Linked DNA regions of Homo sapiens: region 1 is linked to region 2. Evidence: fine-mapped expression QTL. A gene starts in region 2. The other region holds a variant in brackets. All regions are shown on one strand. Distances are between the middles of the regions.

The links.
Region 1: its variant is fine-mapped to the expression of NCMAP in tibial nerve (GTEx, PIP 0.96).

What each region holds. Positions count from the first base shown.
Region 1 is chr1:24,574,254-24,585,494 of GRCh38, reverse strand. The region is part of intron 1 of NCMAP (non-compact myelin associated protein); the gene reads right to left. Among named protein-coding and RNA genes, the nearest start is that of NCMAP, 24 kb to the right of the region's middle. The variant C/G (reference allele first, on the strand shown) is at 4,443.
Region 2 is chr1:24,551,188-24,562,428 of GRCh38, reverse strand. NCMAP (non-compact myelin associated protein) reads right to left here and starts at 6,342. Exons shown (of 4, transcript NM_001010980.5): 1 at 6,260-6,342. NCMAP-DT (NCMAP divergent transcript) reads left to right here and starts at 6,405. Exons shown (of 3, transcript NR_109781.1): 1 at 6,405-6,613; 2 at 10,381-10,541.

The DNA.
Region 1 (11,241 bases), 23 kb before region 2:
CCAAAAGCTTATTCTTCTTTGTAGATATGGACTCAGGGGATGTGAGGAGAGGGAAGTCAGCGTGAGCACATCACTCTGGAAAGCAGCGATCCTTCCTAGAAGGCACTAGAGACTGGAACAAACCGAGGCAGATTCCATGAAGGGGCTTTGATTTGGCAACAGCAGTGCACAAGAAAGGAAACCCGGGAATGAACTTCCAAGCACTCTGTAGGGTACATAGTCACCCGAGCCGCCTGAATCCTTCATGGCCATTTCCTTCACCCTCTATTCCTCTTGGATCCCTTATCATAAGCTCCCCACCCCGTCTGCCCTGTCTGTTCATGGCTCTGTGTATCACAGCTCCCAAAGTTGGGGTAGGAATTCTGCCGTGTGCTCCCCTGAACTGGAGGCCATACACAATTACATACTGAACATGTGTTCCTTGTAGTTGGTTCCCAGAAATAAGGGAGCACATTTTCTGCTCCATTTACCCATCTATTCTTTCATCCTGCTATCCACTCATGCCCCCACCCACCCACCCGCCCACCCACTCACTGGGCACACAGTCCTTCCACCCGTTCTTCTGTCCATCTGTCCTCCCATCCATTCAATCAATGCCCACCCTGTGCATAGGACTGAGAAGACGCAAAGAGGGCCGTGGGTCTGTTTTAAACCAAAGAACAATACATAAATAAATAAAATAAAAACCAAAAAACCAGAGGGGCCAAGGGGATTATGTCCTGAGGAACTCAGACCGAAAGAATGAGAAAAGGAATTGTTTCCTTTCAGAATCTTTTCTTCAATCACATGTACTGGGCATCAACCCCACCCCACCGCCCACCCCATGCCTAGCCCAGCACTGACCACAGAAAGGTGCCTGATCAATATCATACTGCAGTCCTATGGCAAAAGCCGCAGCCTGTGGCTCCAGAAGTCTGGGTTTCAGGCCCACCACACACAGACTTCAGGGGAAGTCTTACTTCCCCACCCTGTCAAACGGTGGCTCAGATGTCCTTTGCTCTGATTTTTGTGACCCACATTGTAAGAAAAGGGGACTCCAGGAGCTTCTAACCCAAGACCTGCAGATATGATAAGCTGAGTGTGCTAAGAGTTATAAATAGAAACCCCAGCTGAAAGTGGTCACAAGGCTTACTTTGCTGGTGCCAAAAGGGTGGCACACACAGTGCCAGAAGTCGGTGGGAGGAAGAGACCCGTGGACATTGTGGTGGAGATTGACTGAGAGCTAGAATGTGACCTGTGGCTTCCGTCTACCTCTCAGTCTCTGGGCTCAAGCCAAGGACCCAACTCTTGAGAGTCCTCGACCTCCATAGGAGCTCCCATGTAAATCTCCAGGTGTCCCGCTGTCCCTGTGGGGCGGGGGGAGGGCACAGGGTTAATGGGTTTATGCCCCTCAGTGAATATGTCAGAGGATAATAATGCCACCTCGATATTCTAGGCCAGGAGGGAAGGAAGCCCACACTCAAGCAGACCCTATGCAAGTGCCAGGCACTGTGCTTTCACATGCTTCCCCATTCAATCCACACAGCGAGGCAGGTCTTTTCATCTCCACTGTGCTGATAGGAAACGGAGGCTCAGAGAGGTTAAGGGACTTGCCCAAAATCTAACAGCAGGTCAGTGGAGGAGCTGAGTCTCAAACTCAGATCTCCTACTCCAAACCGTCCTCGGCAATCCTGGTCCCCGGGAGGTAAGCAGTATTCCTGGGGACACTCTGATGGTCAGTGACCCTGCTAGGGAAGGATTCTGCTCACCTGCTCACTTTTTTTTTTTTTTTTTTTTTCTGAGACGGAGTCTTGCTCTGTCACCCAGTCTGGAGTCCAGTGGCGTGATCTCAGCTCACTGCAACCTCCACCTCCCGGGTTCAAGCAATTCTCCTGCCTCAGCCTCCTGAGTAGCTAGGATTACAGATGTGCGCCACCACACCTAGCTAATTTTTTGTATTTTTAGTAGAGATGGGGTTTCACCCATGTTGGCCAGGCTGGTCTCGAACTCCTGACCTCAGGTGATCCGCCCGCCTTGGTCTCCCAAAGTGCTGGGATTACAGGCATGAGCCACCGTGCCTGGCAACTCTCTGCTCACTTTTCTTTCTACCTGTTGATATTTTGAGCCCAAGAGGTACAGCCAGGCCTCAGAGTATGGCAGAGTTTCTCATCCTTGGTACTACTGACATTCAGGCCAGGTAATTCTTTGGTGTGAGGGGCTGTCCTGTGCATTATAGGATATTCAGCACCATCGCAGCATCCTTGGCCTCTCTGCTCACTAGATGCCAGTAGCATCCCACCAGTTAGAACAACCAAAAATGTTACAGGACATTTCCAAATGTCCTTGGGAGACAAAATTTTCTCTGCTTGAGAATCACTGGAGTAGAGCTATTTGGCCTGCCTCTTAACAGTTTCCTATTCTCCCTATCCAAGAAGAACTAGATAAGAAGGAAAATGTCCAGTCTGTTTTCATACCTGTGGATAAACAACCAATAACCATGATGATGACGACGATGGCGATGACCAAAAGCACAATTACTGCCATTGATCAAGTGTCTTTTACGTGCCAGTTACCATGCCAAGTACTTTGTATATGTTTTCTCCATATATTATTCCTATTTTACAGACATAGGAGCTGAGGCTCAGAGAAGTTAGGAAACTTGCCTGAGGCATCTGTGCTGATACATGGCAAAGCTAGGATCTATACGTTTCCTATTGCTGCTCTAACAAATTATTGCAAATTTAGTGGCTTAAAACAACACACATTAATCTTCTTTCAGTTTAAGAGGTCAGAATTCTAAAGTTGGCCTTAGTGGGCTAAAATCAAAGTGTTAGCAGGGCTGTGTTCCTTCTGGAGGCTCTAGGGGAGAATTCATTTCTGGGCCTTTTCTTGCAAGCTGCCTGCATTCCTTGGCTCGTGGTTTCTTCCTCCATCTTCAGACCAGCAGCGTAGCATCGTCTTACCTCGCTCTCTCTGATCTCTGCTTCCATCATCACATCTCTTCCTCTCTCTGTGACCCTCCTGCCTCTCCCTTATAAAGAACCTTACGATGACATTGGGCCCACTCAGCTAATCCAGGATAATCTCCCCACCTCAAAGTCATGAACTTAATTACATCTGCAAAGTTCCTTTTGCTGTGCAAACTAACATATTCTGAGGTTTGGGGGATTAGGATGAGGATGTTTTTGGGAGGCCATTATTCAGCTTCCTACATAGGAGTTGGGCTCTTATCTGTCTGATCCCAAGGTGTGCACTCTGAATCCACTCCTGCTTCATCTACACTGCCTTTACACGCAGACACACAGGCCAAGCACCACGGGAGGCACTGAGGTGGATCCGATGTGTGCAGGGGGTGGTCGGCACGAGCAACGAATCAGGAGGTTGCGCATGAGAAGGGCTGTGAGAGACGGACAGAGAAAGAGTCCTGGAGCCGCTAGGCCAGCTGGGGTAGGGGAATAGGGAGTGGGCTCAAGAGGCAACTGGGCAGGCCTGATTCCTTCCCTGCTGAGCAAGCTGATTTCATGTAAGTCTTAGCACCAACTTACCTCTAACTTCACTTCAAAGGTATCCATAGTTCATCCTGTCCTGAAGGACCGGTCCAGCCCAGCCCCTGCCAGCCAGAATTCTATCCCATCTGTGGGATTTATTTGCCTAGTTAACTCATAACCAATCTCAAATCTTCCTTTCCAGAGTTCCTCCCTGCCAAGGGCTTAGAAGGTCTTTGGTCTTGTAAGGACTTTAGTCTTGTAAATGTCTACTAAAGTAGACTGTCTGCTTTAGGCCCCTCTCTGGCCAGTTCTGATTTGCAAGGATGTCTTTCAGCTGTCTGGCCCCTCCATGAGCCTCATCAATCCCTTTACAGACTAGAGGAAGTGCGCTGGGTTGGTTAGCTGGGCTCTCTTTCCCAGACAGGCAGAGCCTTGGACTTCTCCCAGCGACTCTCAGTCCGTGCAGTAACTTAGGGTGGTTTCTCTAGGCTACTGAACACAATGAATTTCCTGCCTGCAGGGAACTTACAGGTAAGAAGGATGAATTCCGGTTGGCCTTATCTTGACATAAACAAAGTTTGGGATACATCTTTTAAACAAAAGAAAGCAGGGGCCGGTCACAGTGGCTCATGCCTGTAATCCCAGCATTTTGGGAGGCCAAGGCAGGTGGATTACTTGAGGCCAGGAGTTCGAGACCAGCCTGGTCAATATGGTGAAACCCCATCTCTACTAAAAATACAAAAATTAGCCAGTCGTGGTGGCGGGTGCCTGTAATTTCAGCTGTTTGGGAGGCTGAGGCAGGAGAATCGCTTGAACCTGGGAAGTGGAGGTTGCAGTGAGCCAAAATAGCACCACTGCTCTCCAGCCTGGCATCGCAGCGAGACCTCGTCTCAAAAAAAAAAAAAGCAGAAAGGACTTCTGGCTGGTTCAGCAAACTAGATGGAGCACGACTATTCATCTCTGCTTCATCCTGAA[C/G]CCCCTGGCACATGACAGTGAAGGAATCAAGAATCAAGAGGCGTCAACTCTCAAGGCCAAAGGGTACAGAAGAGAAAACAACCACACTGGAGAGACGCCAATCCAGGTTTGAAAGCCGGAAAAGCCGACGGCTGAGTATGACTTAACAGCCTGGAAAAGGCAAAGGCCTAAACCTACAGACTAGGAAACCAATTAAAGCTGATTGCACTGAAGAAGCCCCCCAGACTCAGGAGTGAGTGGTGACAGAGATCACCAAACGTCAGGGTGCCAGGTGGGGCTAAACAGAGGAAGACTGCCTGGGCGCAGTGGCTCACGCCTGTCATTCCAGCACTTTGGGAGGCTGAGACGGGCGGATCACCTGAGGTCAGGGGTTTGAGACCAGGCTGGAACTTGACAAAACATGGTGAAACCCTGTCTCTACTAAAAATACAAAAATTAGCCAGGTGTGGTGGTGCATGCCTGTAGTCCCAGCTACTCAGGAGGCTGAGGCAGGAGAATCGCTTGAACCTGTGAGGCGGAGGTTGCAGTGAGCTGAGATCGCACCACTGCACTCCAGCTTGGTGACAGAGCAAGACTCCATCCCCCCACCCAAAGAAAGAGGAAGACAAAAGTTAAGGCGCAGCTCCACTCTGCCCCCCTCCACCCCTTCCCTCCGTCCTCACCACTGTGGGCCTCCTCCACCCTGCAGAACAGAGTGAGTTCTGCCCCCGTCTGCAGAGGCAGCCAGGAGGAGGTAACCCTGCACTGCCTGACATGATAGCCACATGTAGCCATGGCAAGTTAAAGAAAAATTAATTACACTTAAATACAATTAAGAATGTAGTGTCTCCGTTGCATTAGCCACATTTCAGCTGCCCAGTACCCGCCGTGGCTGGTGGCTCCCGCATTGGACAGCACAGGATGGTGTCAAGTCATTTTGGGCAGTGCTGCCGCAGGCTGTGGCCCTCACAGTGTGGTCCATGGATCAGCAGCACCGGCAGCTCTGGCGCTTTGTTGGGAATGCAGAATCTCAGCTCCACTCAGGCCTGCTAGCCAGAACCTACCCCTCGGCCAGACCCCAGGAGATTCATAGGCACATTTGTCTGGGAAGCTCAGCTCTGCCAAAGGCTAATCTCTGGCTGAAAATGGGAATGTCAAAGCCTAGGCTCTGGGAAACAGACCAGCCAAAGGGAATAGACCTACAGATACTGATTGACTAGAGAATCTTCTAATACAATGGCCAGGTTCTGTCCAGTCGGCCTATGGAGAGGCTGCTAGTTGACAAGCTCTGCCCACCTCACCTAGAGTTTTGAACGGATTTTTGTTTCCTTATTTATTTATTTTTGAAACAAGGTCTCACCCTGTTGCTCAGGCTGGAGTGCAGTGGTGCAAATCATAGCTCACTGCAGCCTTGAATTCCTGGACCTAAGTGCAGCCTCCTGAGCAGCTGGGACTACAGGTGTGCACCACCATGTCTGGCTAACTTTTTTAATTTTTAGTTTTGTAGAGATGGGTCTTGCTATGTTGCACAGGCTAGTCTTGAACTCCTAGACTCAAGTGATCCTCTGGCCTCAGCCTCCCAAATTGCTAGGATCACAGACATGAGCCACCACCCCCAGCCTATGTCTTACTCTTAAATAGGAACAGATAGCCAAGGAGAGGAGAAAAGACCTTTGAGAGGAGAAAAGCCCCAAGCATGACAGACAGCAAACAAAACAATGAACAGATGGAGGCATTTAAGGCAAGTAGAGACAATGCACAGAGAAGAAGAAAACATTGATATATTCAGACAGCTAAGATATTGCATCTATAAAACAAGAACAGGATGCTATGAGAAAGGACACTTTTGGGCATGAAGTCTTTAAAAAAAAAAAAACCCCCACCCTACCCCATGCACCTTTTCCCAGGAAGCCCCTGGAGGATGCACCCACTAAAGTGAGCGAGGGGTGAAGCAAGAGAAGGGCAGGGATTCCAGGGACCAGGGGCTCCAGCCTCCAGTAGGAAGGAGCAAGAAGATGCCGAGGTCCGCGCTGCCGGGCACAGTCTGCGGGTAACCAGCCTGACTGGGGTGGGGGAGGTTCTGTCAGCCAAAGAAAAAATGAAACCTGTAGATTTTCTGATGTGTTTGTCTAGATGGAAAGGAGATCTACTCTTCTCTTCTGTTGGAGAGTTTGCCGGATGAGTTTATGATAGAAAACAAAGCTCTCAGTCAGGTGTAGTGGCTCTTGTCTGTAATCCCAGCACTTTGGGAGGCTGGGGCAGGAGGATTGCTTGAGGCCAGGAGCTTGAGGCCAGCTTGAACGGTATAGTGGGACCCAATCTCTACAAGAAATAAAAATAAAAATTTGCTGGGCATGGTAGCATGTGCCTGTAGTCCCAGCTATTTAGGAGGCTGATGTGGGAGGATCACTTGAGCCCAGGACGTTGAGGCTGCAGTGAGCTGTGATTGTACCACTGCACTCCAGCCTGGGAGACAGAGCAAGAAACCGTCTCAAAAAAAAAAAAAAAAAAAAGAAAGAAAGAAAAAGAAAACTAAGCTCCCTCCCCCAACAGGCTTAGGGATTAAAACTCCTCCTTTCTATTCCAGCTACCCTCCCTCCCACCCCACTCCCAATTTCTCTTCACCACACCACACACCCTCTGTGGAGGCTCTAGGAAGCAACTCCGTGTCCCAGGATCCTGGAGACCCCAGTTGGAAAACTCCTGTGTCCATTGCCCTCTCTTCTACAAATGGGGAGACTGAGGGCCAGCAAAGCCCCCGGGAGCACATAGACAGAGGAAGGTTCATTGGTAGTTTATTTGGTACAATTTTTTTTTTTTTTTTTTTTGAGACAGTGTCCCACAGGCTGGAGTGCAATGGCATGATCTTGGCTCACTGCAACCTCTGCCTCCCAGGTTCTCGTGCCTCAGCCTCCTGAGTAGCTGGGATTACAGGCACATGCCACCATGCCTGGCTAATACTTTTGTATTTTTAGTACAAACAGGGTCTCACTATGTTGCCCAGGCTGGTCTCCAGCTCCTGGCCTCAAGTGATCCACCCGCCTCAGCCTCCCAAAGTGCTGGGATTACAGGCGTGAGCCATTGTGCCTGGCCTATTTGGTACATTTTTTAGACCTCTTTTCTAATTCATTCAAAACAAAATGCGCAACAGCAGCAGCAAGAACCAAACCACCCCTAAAGGAGCCATGGCCGGGAGGCGACTTGTAAGACCCCCGACCCCCGGCCCATGCATCTCTCCTTTAAGCTTTCCTCGCAACCACCCTGCTGTCGTAAGGCACTAAGTCTCCCAAAAGCTCGAACTGAGGTTTCCGAGTCACTTCATAGTCACCTACAAAAAGCAAGACTATGTAGATGTAGTTAATATCTATGCCATGAACAGGGCAACTGAAAACTTCTGAGAAAAAAAATTGGGGATGGGAGTGCAGGAAAAAATTCAACTCCAAATGAGTGCCAGCAATCTCTTTGGAACCAAGTGTGTTGACTTCCAGAACCAAGGCCAGGCCGGGCATGGTGGTTCAAGCCTGTAATCCCTGCACTTTGGGAGGCCGAAGTGGGAGGATCACTTGAGGCCAGGAGCTGGAGGCCAGCCTGGGCAACGTAGTGAGAACCCATCTCTACAAACGAAAAACAAACAAAAAAACCAAAAAAAAAAAAAAAAAAAAAAAAAAAAAACAAGGCCAGTGCCTTCTTAGAAACTCCAAAAATCTGAATTTATCCCTAATGGATCTTTCAGTGGTCTCGCTTTTGTTTCTCTGTCTCTTCCTCTGCCTTATCCAAGGGCTTGGCTAACCACAAAGTGTTTGTTATTAATGAGTTAAGGATGACAATTCTCTGGGAGTATCTGCATTTTAATATGAAATTCTAGGAAATCTAGTGCTCTATAATTTTAGCATGTGACATCCTTTTTATTTTTTATTTTTATTTTTATTTTTTTTGAGACGGAGTCTCACTCTGTCGCCCAGGCCTGGAGTGCAGTGGCGCAATCTTGGCTCACTGGAACCTCTACCTCCTGGATTCATGTGATGCTTCTTCCTCAGCCTCACGAGGAGCTGGGATCACAGGCATGCACCACCACGCCCAGCTAATTTTTTTGTGTGTGTGTGCTTTTAGTAGAGACAGGATTTCGTCATGTTAGCCAGGCTGGTCTTGAACTCCTGACCTCAGGTGATCCACCTGCCTCAGCCTCCCAAAGTGCTGGGATTACAGGTGTGAGCCACTGTGTCCTGTGTAACATCCTTTCTTTGAGTCCCAAGGTCTTGGTCTATGGGGCTCACTACCTCACCTACTTAACACGGCCATCTTGAAAACTCCAACAGAGAGGCCTGAGATGGGGGGCAAGAACCCTGGGCTGGAGTTAGGAATCCTGGGTTCTAGTCTCACCCCTGTTACTTACTTTCTGTGTGACCTGGGGCAGGCCACTTGTTCTGTCTGGACTGCAGTTTGCCCTCCTGCAAACTGAACAGCTGGGGACCAGGGACCTCCCTCTCTGGCCCCTTCCTCCTTGTGACTCTTCCAGCCTCTCACTTGGTTCAGGACACCCTCCCCGAGGCTTGTTTGCCTCCACACCCTCCATTCCAGAAGGAACACCCCTCCCCTTTCCTGCCAAGCCTGGGCCTGGCAGCCGCTGGACTCCAGAGAGGACAGGAGTTGGGGAAACAATCCCAGCCGTTCAAGCTGCCCACGGTGTGAGCTGGCCAGTGGCCAGTCACAATAGGCCCAAAGATACAGAGGGGCGTTTGTCTGGGGGACCTGCGGTGTCATTTAAACCTACACTCTCGTCTTGGCCTGCCGCCTGTCTTTTCTTCCCACCCTCTCAAGCAGCAGTGCCAGCCCCCAGCTTTGTCAGGAGGTGGGATGTGGATGCCGCACAGACCTAAGTGGCCTTTCTGTGGCTGGGAAACTGGACCAAGAAAGGCAGGTCGGGGGACAGGCAGGGGAGCCATCTGTGCAGGGTGGCAGTGGTGAGGGTGGAGGATGGGGACAGCGAGGGAGGGCAGGAGAAGCTCTGGACGGGGCAATGCGGCTGTGCAGAGAGGATCAGGATGAGGGAGCTAGTTCTGACTCCTTCACTAACTAGCCAAGTTACTGTGGGCAAGGCGCTTTCTTCTCCTCTCCAGGACTTAGTTTCCTCATTTTTTTTTTTTTTTTTTTTTTTTTTGAGAGTGCAATGGTGCGATCTCGGCTCATTGCAACCTCCGCCTCCTGGGTTCAAGCAATTCTCCTGCCTTAGCCTCCCAAGTAGCTGGAATTACAGGCACATGCCACCACGCCCGGCTAATTTTGTATTTTTAGCAGAGACGGGGTTTCACCATGCTGGTCAGGCTGGTCTCAAACTCCTGACCTCAGGTGATCCAGCCGCCTCGGCCTCTCAAAGTACTGGGATTACAGGCATGAGCCACCACGCCCGGGCAGTTTTCTCAGTTTTAAAACGGGGCAATTGCTCCTAATCTGTGAGGACTGGGTTAAATACAGTGATGAGCTTGCAAATGCCAAGTGTGGCTTGGCGAAGACAAGGGTTTGGGCTCAGATGGACCTAGGTTCAGATTCTGCCTCTGTCACCTTTAAAATCACTGTTGTAGACAAATTATTCACCCTCCAGGAGCCTCATTTCCTCATCTGGATTGTAAGGATCAAATAAGAGCTGACAGAAAGCACCCTGCCCAATAAACCTGTCTGAACGAATGAAGACTCAGTCGGGTGCATTATGACTTCTGTGGGGCTCTCCCAGCGTAATACATTTTCGTGGGCTCTAAAAATTTTATTTTTTTTCCAACCCGAGGGAAAAAAACTGAAACTTTTTTGCTGCTCTAAAAGTTCTTTCCCCTGCTTGATTTTAAAGAAATTAAAACATCTTTTTTTATCTGAGACAAAGTCTCACTCTGTCGCCCAGGCTGGAGTGCAGTGGCACGATCTCGGGTCACTGCAACCTCCGCCTCCCAGAAATTAAAACATCTTAATGGGCCCTTAAAAGTATTATGGGCCTTGGCCAGGTGTGGTGGCTTATGCTTGTAATCCCAGCACTTTGGGAGGCCAAGGCTGGCGGATCACCTGAGGTCAGGAGTTCAAGACCAGCCTGGCCAACATGTTGAAACCGCATCTCTACAAACAAAAATTAGCCAGGCATGATGGTGGTGCCTGTAATCCCAGCTACTTGGGAGGCTGAGGCGGGAGAATTGCTTGAACCCGGGAGGCAGTGGGTGCAGTGAGCCGAGATCATGCCATTGCACTCCAGACTGGGCGACAGTGTGAGACTCCGTCTCAAAAAAAAAAAAAAAAAAAGTATTGCGGGCCTTGTCTACTGTGCCTCGTGCTCCTGGTACTGCTGGTTCAGGGTTCTCTCAGAGCTGACCTGTCCTGGACACCGTCTCCAGTGTCTACTGGGCCCCTGATGTTGTCTCTGAAGAATCTGCTGTGGAGCTCAGAGTCCTGGGACATGGTATATGTCGGAGTTCTCCAGAGAGACAGGATCAATGTGTTATACAGATACAGAAGAGGGGACTTACTAAGGGAATGGGCTTATGCAATCGTGGAGGCTGCGAAGTCCGGTGACAGGCTATCTGCAAGCTGAAGACCTTGGGACATCAGGAGCGTGGCTCAGTCCAAGCCCGAAGGCCTCAGCACCAGGGACACTGATGATATAACTCTCAGTCCCGTTGGCCGGGCGCGGTGGCTCATGCCTGTAATCCCAGCACTTTGCGAGGCCGAGGTGGGCAGATAACTTGAGGTCAGGAGTTTGAGACCAGCCTGGCCAACATGGTGAAACCCCGTCTCTACTAAAAGTACAAAAATTAGCTGGGCATGGTGGCACGCACCTGTAATT
Region 2 (11,241 bases):
GTGGATCCATGTTGGCACTGCCAGCTGGGCAACTCACTTAGTCTTTCCAAGCCTCAGTTTCTTCATCTGCAAGATGGAGATGATAATAGCACTCATTTATAGGGTTCCTGAGGCTTATCAGGAGACAAGGCTGCAAAGTGATTCGTAGAATGCCTGGCACATTAAAGGCTCTCAAAAATGTTAATTATTCTTGTTATTATTGTGACGAATGACGCTGTTACTGGGAATTAGGTAGGAACTTGGAGCTGCTTAGAAAAAAGATAAATGAATTGCTTTTCATCCTCTGGGCAAACCAGTTACCCTTAGGAGGCAGAACATTCAGAATTTCAAAGAAGGAGGATTGAGTAGGCATGGATCTTAAAAAGTTGAGGTAAAAAGCAGCAAGGCAAAGAAACAAAAAACCAAGTTTCATTTTCCAGCAAGAACTATTAATATCATTAAAGGTGTTCAGATTTTGGATAACTGGTCTCCTTCTCCAGTTCTTTGTCCCTCCCTCCTTTTTCTTTTTTTTTTTTTTTGAGACGAAGTCTCGCTCTTGTCCCCCAGAGTAGAGTGCGGTGGCATGATCTCAGCTCACTGCAACCTCTGCCTCCCAGGTTCAAGCGATTCTCCTCCCTCGGCATCCCAAGTAGCTGGGATTACAGGTGTGTACCACCACACCTGGCTAATTTTTTATTTTAAGTAGAGACAGGGTTTCACTATGTTGGCCAGGCTGGCCTGGAACTCCTGACCTCAGGAGATCTGCCCGCCTCAGTCTCCCAAAGTGCTGGGATTACAGGCATGAGCCACCGCGCCCGGCCCCTCCCTTCCTTCTTTCTTGCTCAAGGCAGTACTGTGAGGTTAGAGCTTCCACAGTGAAGGGCCTGGCTGGAGTTTCATCCCTGTGCTTGTTAGCTGGAGGACCCACGTCTCCATTAGGTGCAGGTGGCATGATGCCCAGATTACTTTTAGGGTCCCACAAAAAATGTTTTTATTTCTTTTAAAATCCAGAGGAAAAAGCGACTTTCAGGTTGAAGAAGATGTTTTGATATACCCATGCAGTCATATAAATATCACTGTAAGTATTTCTTTTTCTTTTTTTGAAACAGACTTTCACTCTTGTCACCCAGGCTGGAGGGCAGTGGTGCGATCTCGGCTCACTGCAACCTCCGCCTCCCCCATTCAAGTGATTCTCCTGCCTCAGCCTTCCAAGTAGCTGAGATTACAGGTGCTCGCCACCGTGCCCAGCTATTTTTTTTTTTTTTTTTTTTGTATTTTTAGTAGAGATGGTGTTTCCCCATGTTGGCCAGGCTGGTCTTGAACTCCTGACCTCAGGTGATCCGCCCTCCTCGGCCTCCCAAAGTGCTGGGATTATAGGCATGAGCCACTGCGCCGGGATGATTTTAAATATTTCTTATGGGGCATGGGTCCCATGAAGGCAAAATCGCCCCAGGCTCAGGGAAGTCAGAATGCATCCCCAAGGGCACCATGGAACAATAATACTCATCTCTGGGGGTGTTAAAGGGCCAGGGCTTGTATAGCATTCTGCACTGTGTGGGCACCTAAGAAGCTCTCCGCAAGCAAGTTAACCATTTGTTTTCCTCAATGAACTGCAAGTTGAAACCTTAGGAAACCCCCATGAGGGTCATGGGATTGGGCACAGCAGCGAGGGGAAAAGTTGCACAACTGCTTTTTTTTTTTTCTATGAGATAGGGTCTTGCTCTGTCACCCAGGCTGGAGTGCAGTGGTGCCATCACAGCTCACGACAGCCTCAACCTCCTGGGCTCATGTGATTCTCCCACCTCAGCCTCCCGAGGAGCTGGGACCACAGGTGCACAACACCACACCTGCTAAAGTTTTTGTTATTTGTAGAGACAGGGTCTCCCTATGTTGGCCAGATTGGTCTCAAACTCCTGGGCTCAAGTGATCCTCCTGCCTTGGCGTGAGCCAACACCCCGGGCCCACATTTGTTTTTTATTACACGACAGACTAAGGAAACACCCCAGGTGGAGGAACAGATGAAAACTTCAAAGCAAGGCCACTGTGTTCCAGGGTGTGCACGAAACCAGACAGGCAGCAAAAAGAGCTCTTTCTGAATTCCCAGTGCAGGTGTCAGCAAGCCCTGAAGAGGTGGGCTGAGTGAATGAACAAATGAATGAACCAATGACGAGTGAATTGTGGGACGAATTTTTAAATCCTGAGGTTGTTTGCCCCAAAAGGTAGCTCCCCAGACACAAGTTTCTTCAGAGGCAAAGGGAAACAAATTTTTTTTTTTTTTTTTTTTTTTTTGAGATGGAGTCTGGCTCTGTCGCCCAGGCTGGAGTGCAGTGGTGCCATCTCGGCTCACTCCAAGCTCCGCTTCCCGGGTTCACGCCATTCTCCTGCCTCAGCCTCCAGAGTAGCTGGGACCACAGGCGCCCGCCACCACGCCCGGCTAATTTTTTGTATTTTTAGTAGAGACAGGGTTTCACCATGTTAGCCAGGATGGTCTTGATCTCCTGACTTCGTGATCCACCTGCCTCGGCCTCCCAAAGTGCTGGGATTACAGGCGTGAGCCACCGCGCCCGGCCACAAATTCTTAATAGATGATTGCAGAGGGTACTATCGTCTCTGGTTAAATTAGGAAACTGAGGCTCAGAGAGGTGATGTGGCTTGAGGCAGAGTACAGGGCTTAACGCCCTGCTCATCTCTGCCTCCTCGGGGCTGTTACTTGGAGCAAAGCCCTCCAAGCCCAGAGGCCCCAAGCAGGTACCAGCCCCGCAAGGGCCCCCACAGTTCAGATGTGTCCAGCCCAGGCAGGAGGCCCTTCGGAGAAGGCCTGAGCCCAGCTAGAGAACAGGCCTCTCTGTCTTAGAGGTTGGCACACCCTCTGTTCCTTCCTTAGACTAAACTGCAGCCACTACCTCGGGGAATTTCAAACCACATGAGAAGGTCCAGCCCCACTAGCCAGCTCCCCCTCTGGCTCCGCCCCCTCAGCTTCACCCACACCCCTGCCCTGCTCAGGACTCACTGCTGGCTCTTTTCTTGGCTCAGCCCCTTTCCTTCTTCCTGCCGCCTCCTGCCCACCTAGGATCTATACTTCTGATTAGGAATTCTTTTCAGTGTAAACAGCAAGAAATCCATCCTGCTAGGTCCCAAAGCAAACAGCGGGACTCCAGTGGCTGAGATGCCAATGACTGCCTCAGGAGACTGGATGGATGGAGATGGGGAAACCGATAGGGGAACTAGAACAAGGCTTGGAGGTTGTCCAGGACAAACAAACCGGCCGCTGCTTCCGGGCTGACTTCAGAGGCCCTTGGACAGCAGCATGCAAAGTGGACATCTTACCACAGGCACTTCTGGCCAGCAACAGGTTTAGCCCAAATTACAGAAGTTCTGTTTTGGATATTTCTCTTCAATATCAAATATATATATCTTTTTAAAAGTCAGGTGAATAGATGTAATTTGGGGTCTTTCTTTTCATCATACATGAGGTTTTTTTTTTAAGAAATTAAAAGAGTTTATTGGGCAACTTAAAATCCACTTTACCTTTCTTTTCTTTTCTTTTTAACCTTTCATCCCAATTTATTGGATGACTGAAAAATAAAGGGAAGTGTTGCTGCATTTACAATTCCTGGAGAACGCCACCGCTTACTGAGTGTGGAAAGCTGTTGGAGTTAGGAGAAATGGTCTTCCCCAACTCTACGTGACCCTGAACATCACGTCCAGATCCTGGTTTGCAAACCCTGAGAGTGACAGTGCGCTCCGCTCCCTGTAGAGATCCTGTCACCTCTAACACACTATGACCCTGTGTCCCAGGAGCAACAGGATGAGGGGGGGTCAGCTTGGACGTCACTTTCTCCTCTGGGAGCCCAGGGAACAGTGACATAGTGTGAGGCCTCCCCTCATGTGTCAATGTCTAGCACTAGATCCTTCTCTGAGAAAAGGCATTGATGATGGCAGGAGAAAGGGTGGAGGTACAAAATGTGAGAGAGGGGATGGGGACAGTGGGGGGACCACACGATGAAACAAGAAGCTCATGGTCAGTGTTGTCGGAATCTCCTCTCTCAAAGCCAAAAGCTCCATCCTCAGCCTGGGTGGATGCATTCCACATAGATTCCTTGAGCCCCTCCTGTGAGCCACACACCATGCTAGGTGGGGACAAAGTGAGAAGCAAGGCAGCCTTGCTCCCTGCTTTTCTAGAGCTTAGGGCAAAACACCGATATTAAACAAGGGTTGTTGGCAATTATGGAAAGTGCTACAAGGAGAAGCTTCGAACTTGGCCCCCTTAGGGGGTCCAGCGCCTCCCAACTGTTCATGTACTCCTCCAGTCTCCACCTGCACTTTAGAACTTTGCTTCTCACATATTCGTGGTCAACCCAGGGAGATGGAAACCCACTGCAGCTGCCTGCCAGGACGTCACAAAACTGAAACTAGCTTTGCTTAGAGTGGCTCTACCTCAAGGACACAGCTCCTTCCTGACTTCAGGCAGGAATGGCCATAGTCCACATGGTGCTACGGAGCCCAGGAACTGGCCCAGGGGATAAGCTGTTGATAGGAAACCACTACACTAGATTCCCACAGAGCCCAGCCAGTTCCTCAAGCCCAGCTCACTATATGCCCAGCTCACCGCACGCGCCGCGGCTGGCTGGCTTGGCACCATGCTGCCTCCCCACAGCTCATCTCGGCCCCAGCCAGCACAGAGCCCAGCAGGGACAAGGTGAAGAAAGCCACAGGCCATGAAGGGGTCATGGGAACCCCCTTCCCATTTCCTCCTCCCCTCCCACCAGGCATTCATGGTCCTTTGGTGTCTCTTGGCTGCCCTTCTGTCCCCTCTCCCCACTTAGAGGACATGAGTAAAGGTATTGGCCTACCTAGAGTTCCTGCCCCATCATCCACTCCCACGGGCTGATGGGACTCAGGATTCCAGGGTATTATGTGCCCTCTTCTATCCCGGTGCTCTGGCTGTGCCTGTCACTTTCTACTACCACCACCAACACACACACGCACACACACGCACACACGTGCACACACCCACATGCACACACATGCACACAAGCGCACACACACACACATGCACACATACACACATGCACCATAAGAGGGGGTGCCTATAATCTGTTGCTCTTGGCTTCTGCTTATAACTGTTCCATCCACCTAGACCACTGTCTCTAGTATCCATACCCACCTCTTAGAACCAGCCATCTGTAAATTCACTATTTGTGCCAAGCATTGTACTTCATATGCATTCATTCATTCATTGGACAAATATGTATTGAGACCTACTGCATGCTGGGCACCGTGCTGGTGCTGGGGATACAAGGGTGAACCAAATAGGCATCATCCCTGCCCCCAAGCAGCTGCTAGCAGACATTAATAGCTCATGTTCATTGAGTGCCTACTATATACCCACCCTGTATTAAACACTTTATGAGTTATCTGATTTAATCTGTCAGAGAAATTGTTTCATTTAAGGAGCACATCAAACTGAAACATAGAGAAAAGTGTGGACTTGCCCGAGACTGTTGGACGGCCTTGGCTGAGGGGTAAAGCAGGGACTCCAAAGCGCTGCCCTAACCACCACCTTTCCTTTCCCTGCCCCACTCAGATGCCACCTCCTCCAAGGGGCCTTCCAGAATCTTCTCCCAGACTCAAGGGCTGCCTTGGTCTCTCTAATCCAGCCTTCATATTTGACACAGCCATCTCCTCCCACAAGGATACCCAGAGGACTGGAGCCGTCTCTGCATCCTTCCTCAGGAGCGCTGCTGGATGAGCGACCCCCGAGCCCCTCCAAACGTGCTGTGGATGGAAACTACGGCCCTGGGCTCCTTCTCTGCCGTGGGTTTTCATCTCGCTGAATCGCAGATCTTCCGGAGGGGCCTCTGCATAGGGCAGACCCATCAAGGCGCCCATTTAACAGATGGGGCGGATAAGGCCCCAAGTGGGTAAAAGTTCCTTTATCTCCAGGCCGGGTCAAGGTCGACTCCCTTTTCTTCCAGCGAGCCTCGGCCCCTCCGCCAGATGCTTGGGTGGGGAGGGGACAAGGAAACGACCTCGTCTCCAAGACCCACTGGAGATGATCAGCCTCCCTCCCACCACCCCGGACCAACGCCCTCCCGCGCAGACCCCAGGCACTTCCTCCAACAGATGTGGGGGTGAGACTGGGGACCCCTCGTCCCCACCCCCGGGCCCTCCTTCGCCCAGCGCGGCCGGCAGGTGGACAGGAAGCCACCGCACCTGGGCCGGACCGCTCCTCGCTCCCCGCAGCCCCGGGCAACCCCGGCGACCAGGCGCCTCCTACCTGCTCTGTCGAGCCCCGCTCGGCCTCCCGCCGGCACCGCCGCGCTCCCAGCCAGGGTCCCCGCCGCCGCCCGGCGCTGCCACCCTGGGATCCCGCCCCCGCCCGGGGCGTCCCGCCCCCGGCCCCGCCCCGTGCAGGTGATCCTGGGGAGGCCGGAGAACGCGCCGGGGGTGCCAGGGTCCCGCACACTGGAGTGGCGGCGCCTCCCCGTGGTGTCCCCGCTCCTGGGTCCTTTTTGGGACTGGCTCTGGCACTCCCGGGCACTCAGTCCAGTAGAGAAGTCCAGCAGGAGGCTTCCAGGTCGGACTCCTCCGCGGGGTAAAGAGAGGGAAAGGGCCTCACAAACACACCCAGGTGAGCTCCAGGCACTTTGAGTAGGGTCTTTAAAGGAGCACGGCGCTAATCTGATTGAAGGTTTTGAGGGGCAGCTGGAGATTCAGACAACCACAGAACGTTAGACCGGGAGGAAACAGGCTTGGCAGCCGGCAAGTGTCAAGAACTCTTGCCGCTGTAGGATCAAAGGCTCCTTCCTCCCCAGGCTGTCGAGATTCCAGCTGTATCCCAGGAGCCCAGGGCGATATCCCTGGCAGGCAGCGGGTACTCAATCAATATTTATAGAAAGCGGGAAGAGATCTCGGAGAGGGGATCTCTTCTCTCAGAAACAGGGAAGCTGAGGCCCAGGAAGCAAAGGTGAGCACAAAGTCTTATAGCAGGTTAGTAACAGTATCAGGAGTGGAGGCTGGTTTCCCGGTTCTATTTTCAATTGATTTCCAGAAAGTGATTGCATCTGGGCCGACTGCCTTGCCGCTCAGTGCCTGTGAGATGCTTTCAAACTCTCCTCAGCTAAGAACTAAGATTTTTATAGGAAGAAAACACGTATTTTTATAGGAAACTCCAAGGTAGTATTTATTTATTTATTTATCTTTGAGACAGGATCTCACTCTGCAGCCCAGGCTGGAGTGTGGTGGCACAATCTCGGCTTACTGCAACCTCTGCCTCCTGGTTCAAGCGATTCTCTTGGCTTAGCCTCCCGAGTAGCTGGGATTACAGGCACATGCCACCACACCCGGCTAATTTTTTTGTGTGTGTATGTATATATATATTTTGGTAGGGACAGGGTTTCACCATGTTGGCCAGGATGGTCTTCAACTCTTGACCTCAAGTGATCCACCAGCCTTGGCCTCTCAAAGTGCTGGATGAGCCACTGCTCCCAACCCATTTTATTTTATGGAGACTGGGTCTTGCTCTCCTGCCCCAGCTGGAGTGCAGTGGCGGGATTTCGGCTCACTGCAGCCTCTAACTCCTGGGCTCTAGCGATCCTCCCACCTTGGCCTCCCAAAGTACTGGAATTACAGGCATGAGCCACCATGCCCAGCTGCAAGGTGGTATTAACAAATATTGATTGAGAGTATAATCCTGTAATTCTACTTTCTCATCAAAGACTTGAGACACTTGAGTATGGTCTTTAAGGAGCATGGTGCTAATCCATGGCTTCAAGAGCTTCCCTGTTGTGGGGGAGGCAGACCTGGTTACAGGGAGAGGCCACAATGTGGGGAGAGGAGTCCAGTGGGAGCCTGCTCTGGCCCTGAGGCCTGAGTTCCACAGTAAATGGCACTGGGGGGGGCCACTTCAGGATGCTTCTGGAAGTTTTTCCAGGTTTGTTTGTGGGGGCAAGAGCCCCCAGTGCATGGTCTCAGGTTCAAATCCTGGCTCCACTGCTTACTATTCGCAAGATGGGAGTAGTTTCTGAGACTGTTTCTTTCTGTAAAATGAAGAGAAGATACTTCAGTATAGTTGCGGTGAGGATTAGAAATGAGATCACACTTGTGAAGTGCCAGGTAAGTGGGAGAATGATTATGCCAAGTGGCAGGAGCTGGGAAGGGGGACTTTGATGTCTTAGGTCCTTCTCTGTGGGGTTTGGTAGTCTTCAGCCTTCTGTTATCTATGGCTCAAGCCCACCTTCTGCTTTGTCCCTTAATCCAGGCTGGCTAAGCCACAGGACACCTGCCCTGTCAGAATGAGTTTGTGCACACCGACAGTAAGGGGTTTGGGAAGGGAGCTCTTCCTTGCACCAGCCCTCCCATAACCAGGGTCAGAGACACCAGCCAAGCCCAGGAGGCAGAAGCATGAAAAGGCTCTTCATCGCGCTGCATATTCACTCATTAAGTGCTACAGAGTGTTCACTATAGGCCAGGCACTTTGCAAGGTGGGGCAGAGTCAGTGGTGGCCCCTCCCTGCCCTGTAGACCTCACCTTCCAGTGGGGCTGGGGTTGAAGGGACAGATGACCCAAGCACAAAAGATGGTAACAAAATAGTGAGACCATCTGAAAAGTTCTAAAGGAAATAATAATATGGTGTCATTGATTATTATGGGTGGGAGGGCAGGGGCTCCCACAGAAACCTATCTGCCAGGGGAGGACAGGGGAGCTGAGACCCAAAGGACAAGCAGGCAGGTGAGGAGGGGCTGGAGCTGGGGCCGGGGAGCACTCTAGAAGGGAGCAGGGTGGGATAGGGTGGGGGAAGCAGCAGGTTGGTTTGTGCAAAGATCCTAAGGCCAGTATAGCAACCAAAGCCAGGGGTGGTTTCAGGGAGAGTGGACAGAATGAGGTCAGAGGCAGGCAGAGATCAGATGCAAGGTCTTACAGGTCAGAGTAAGGATTTTATTCCAAGGACTAGGGAAAACCATGGAGGGTTTCCCGTTGCAATTAAGGAAAGCAACAGGCTGGGGGCGGTGGCACACGCCTGTAATCCCAGAACTTTGGGAGGCTGAGGCAGGAGAATCACTTGAGTCCAGGAGTTCAAGACTAACCTGGGCAACATGGCAAGGTCCCATCTCTACAAAACAAATTTTAAAAATTAGCCGGCCATGGTGGTGCATGGCTATAGTCCCAGCTGCTTGGGAGGCTGAGGTAGGAGGGTCACTTGGGCCTGGGAGGTAGAGACTGCAGTGAGCTGAGATCGCATCACTGCACTCCAGCCTGAGTGACAGAGCTAGACCCTTTCTCCAAAAAAAGAAAAAAAAAAAAAGGAGAAAGGGAAAAAAAAAGATTTTGAAAGCAATTTAATGGAATAAAAAAAAAGTGTGGTGATTTTTCATTTTTAAAATAAAGAGGATGTTTATATATAAATCAGTTTTATTAGTCAATGAAAATTGCTTATACAATTACCCAACATCCCAGCACTTTGGGAGGCCAAGGTGAGAGGATCACCTGAGGTCAGGAGTTCGAGACCAGCCTGACCAACATGGCAAAACCCTGTCTCTACTAAAAATACAAAAAAAAAAAAAAAAAAATAGCTGGGCGTGGTGGCGCACATCTGTGATCCCAGCTACTCGGGAGGCTGAGGCAGAAGAATCACTTGAACCCAGGAGGCAGAGGTTGCAGTGAGCCGAGATCACGTCGCTGCACTCCAGCCTGGGTGACAGAGCGAGACTCTATGTCAAAAAAAAGAAAAAATTACCCAACAAACCACTCCAGTTTCGGATGTTACCCTATGGAGTCTGAGGTGCTGGGGGATTTTAAAATAACAAAAAGCGGCTGCTTCCACGTGGAAAATACCCAGAGACAACCAGTTATCCTTCCTTTTCTTATTAGCAGAAGATGTAACTACAAACTAGCCTTTGAGCGGCTGTGTTTTCATCTCCTGGCCAGGCATGTCCAGTCTTTCATGTCTCCCCTCAAAGCCTTAATCTGCTGTTTATGGCTTTTGAGATGGTTGCTGGGGAAACCAGCCAAATGTCATGTGGGATTAGAATGCAATTTCAGGGGAGGAGACGAAGCACAGAGAATCATGAGTCCAGAGAAACCCAAGTCCACATTGTTTAATCTAGTACAGAGAGAGAGAGGGAGAGAGAGAGGGAGAGGAGGCAAACATACCTAGGCCAATTGATTTTGAAACAATTCCCTGTTTTTCAACTAAGTAGGCAGAGAGTAGAGGGAGCAGCAAAGGCCGCAAGACACAGGCCAAGGTTCTAAATGACCTACAGGGCTCGTAGTGCAGTGTGTCATGTGGCTGATCCCAGATGGACATGTGCTGGGCGGACGTGAAGTGCAGGGGAGGACCAGAGCCCCTTCCCAAGCGCTGCTGTCCTGCATGTGGTCTAATTCCCATCTTACCTCTAGGAGCATCTGGCGATGGAGGATGAGAAGACAAGAGAATGACGGGGGCAGGGTCAGGGGTCTAATCTCCTTGCGAGCCACCTGATCTCCCCGGGCCTCTGTTTTCTCATCTGTGAAATGACGGGTTGGACGGCCTTGTCTCTGAGGCCTCATCCAGTTCCACGGTAAGTCTGATAATCGTGAGTGTGCCTTTAAACAGCCAGCCCAGGTCATTACCTGACAGCTTCCTCATTTTTTATGCTACATTTTTAGGAATGTGCGTTAGCGCAAACCATTTGTTGGTAATTACAAGGGAAAAACTTCTCAGAATGAAAATAGGAAGCTGTAAATTAATTTAAGTCCTTCTGCCATCAGCGGAAGCCACGCCTCCTCACCTTGGCAAGGAACCTGTGCTCTCCTGGTGGCAGTCAGCCCATTCGCAGCTATCTCAGCTGCTGAGTCCTCCTCCCCTGGTACCTCCTTGGTCTATCCTACTATCACAGTCACCCTAGGAATCCCAGAGTGAGAGCAGAAAAAACACACACCGAGAGAAGACGCAATCTAATGGCTACTCCGTTTACTTGCTGTGTGACTTCAGGCAGGTCTCCTAACCTCTCTGGACATGAGTTTCCTCTTCTATAATTCATTCATTCAGTGAATATTTACCAATAGCCTGCTGTGTGCCAGTGATGAATAAAAGAGATGACAATTCCTGCTCTGATGAAGCATGCATTCTGATGGGAGAAAAACAACAAAAATGAAGAAGCCAGGCTGGGTGCCGTGGCTCATACCTGTAATCCTAGCACTTCGGGAGGCTGAGGAGGGTGGGTCACTCAAGTCCAGGAGTTCAAGACCAGACTGGGCAACATGGAGAGACCCTGCCTC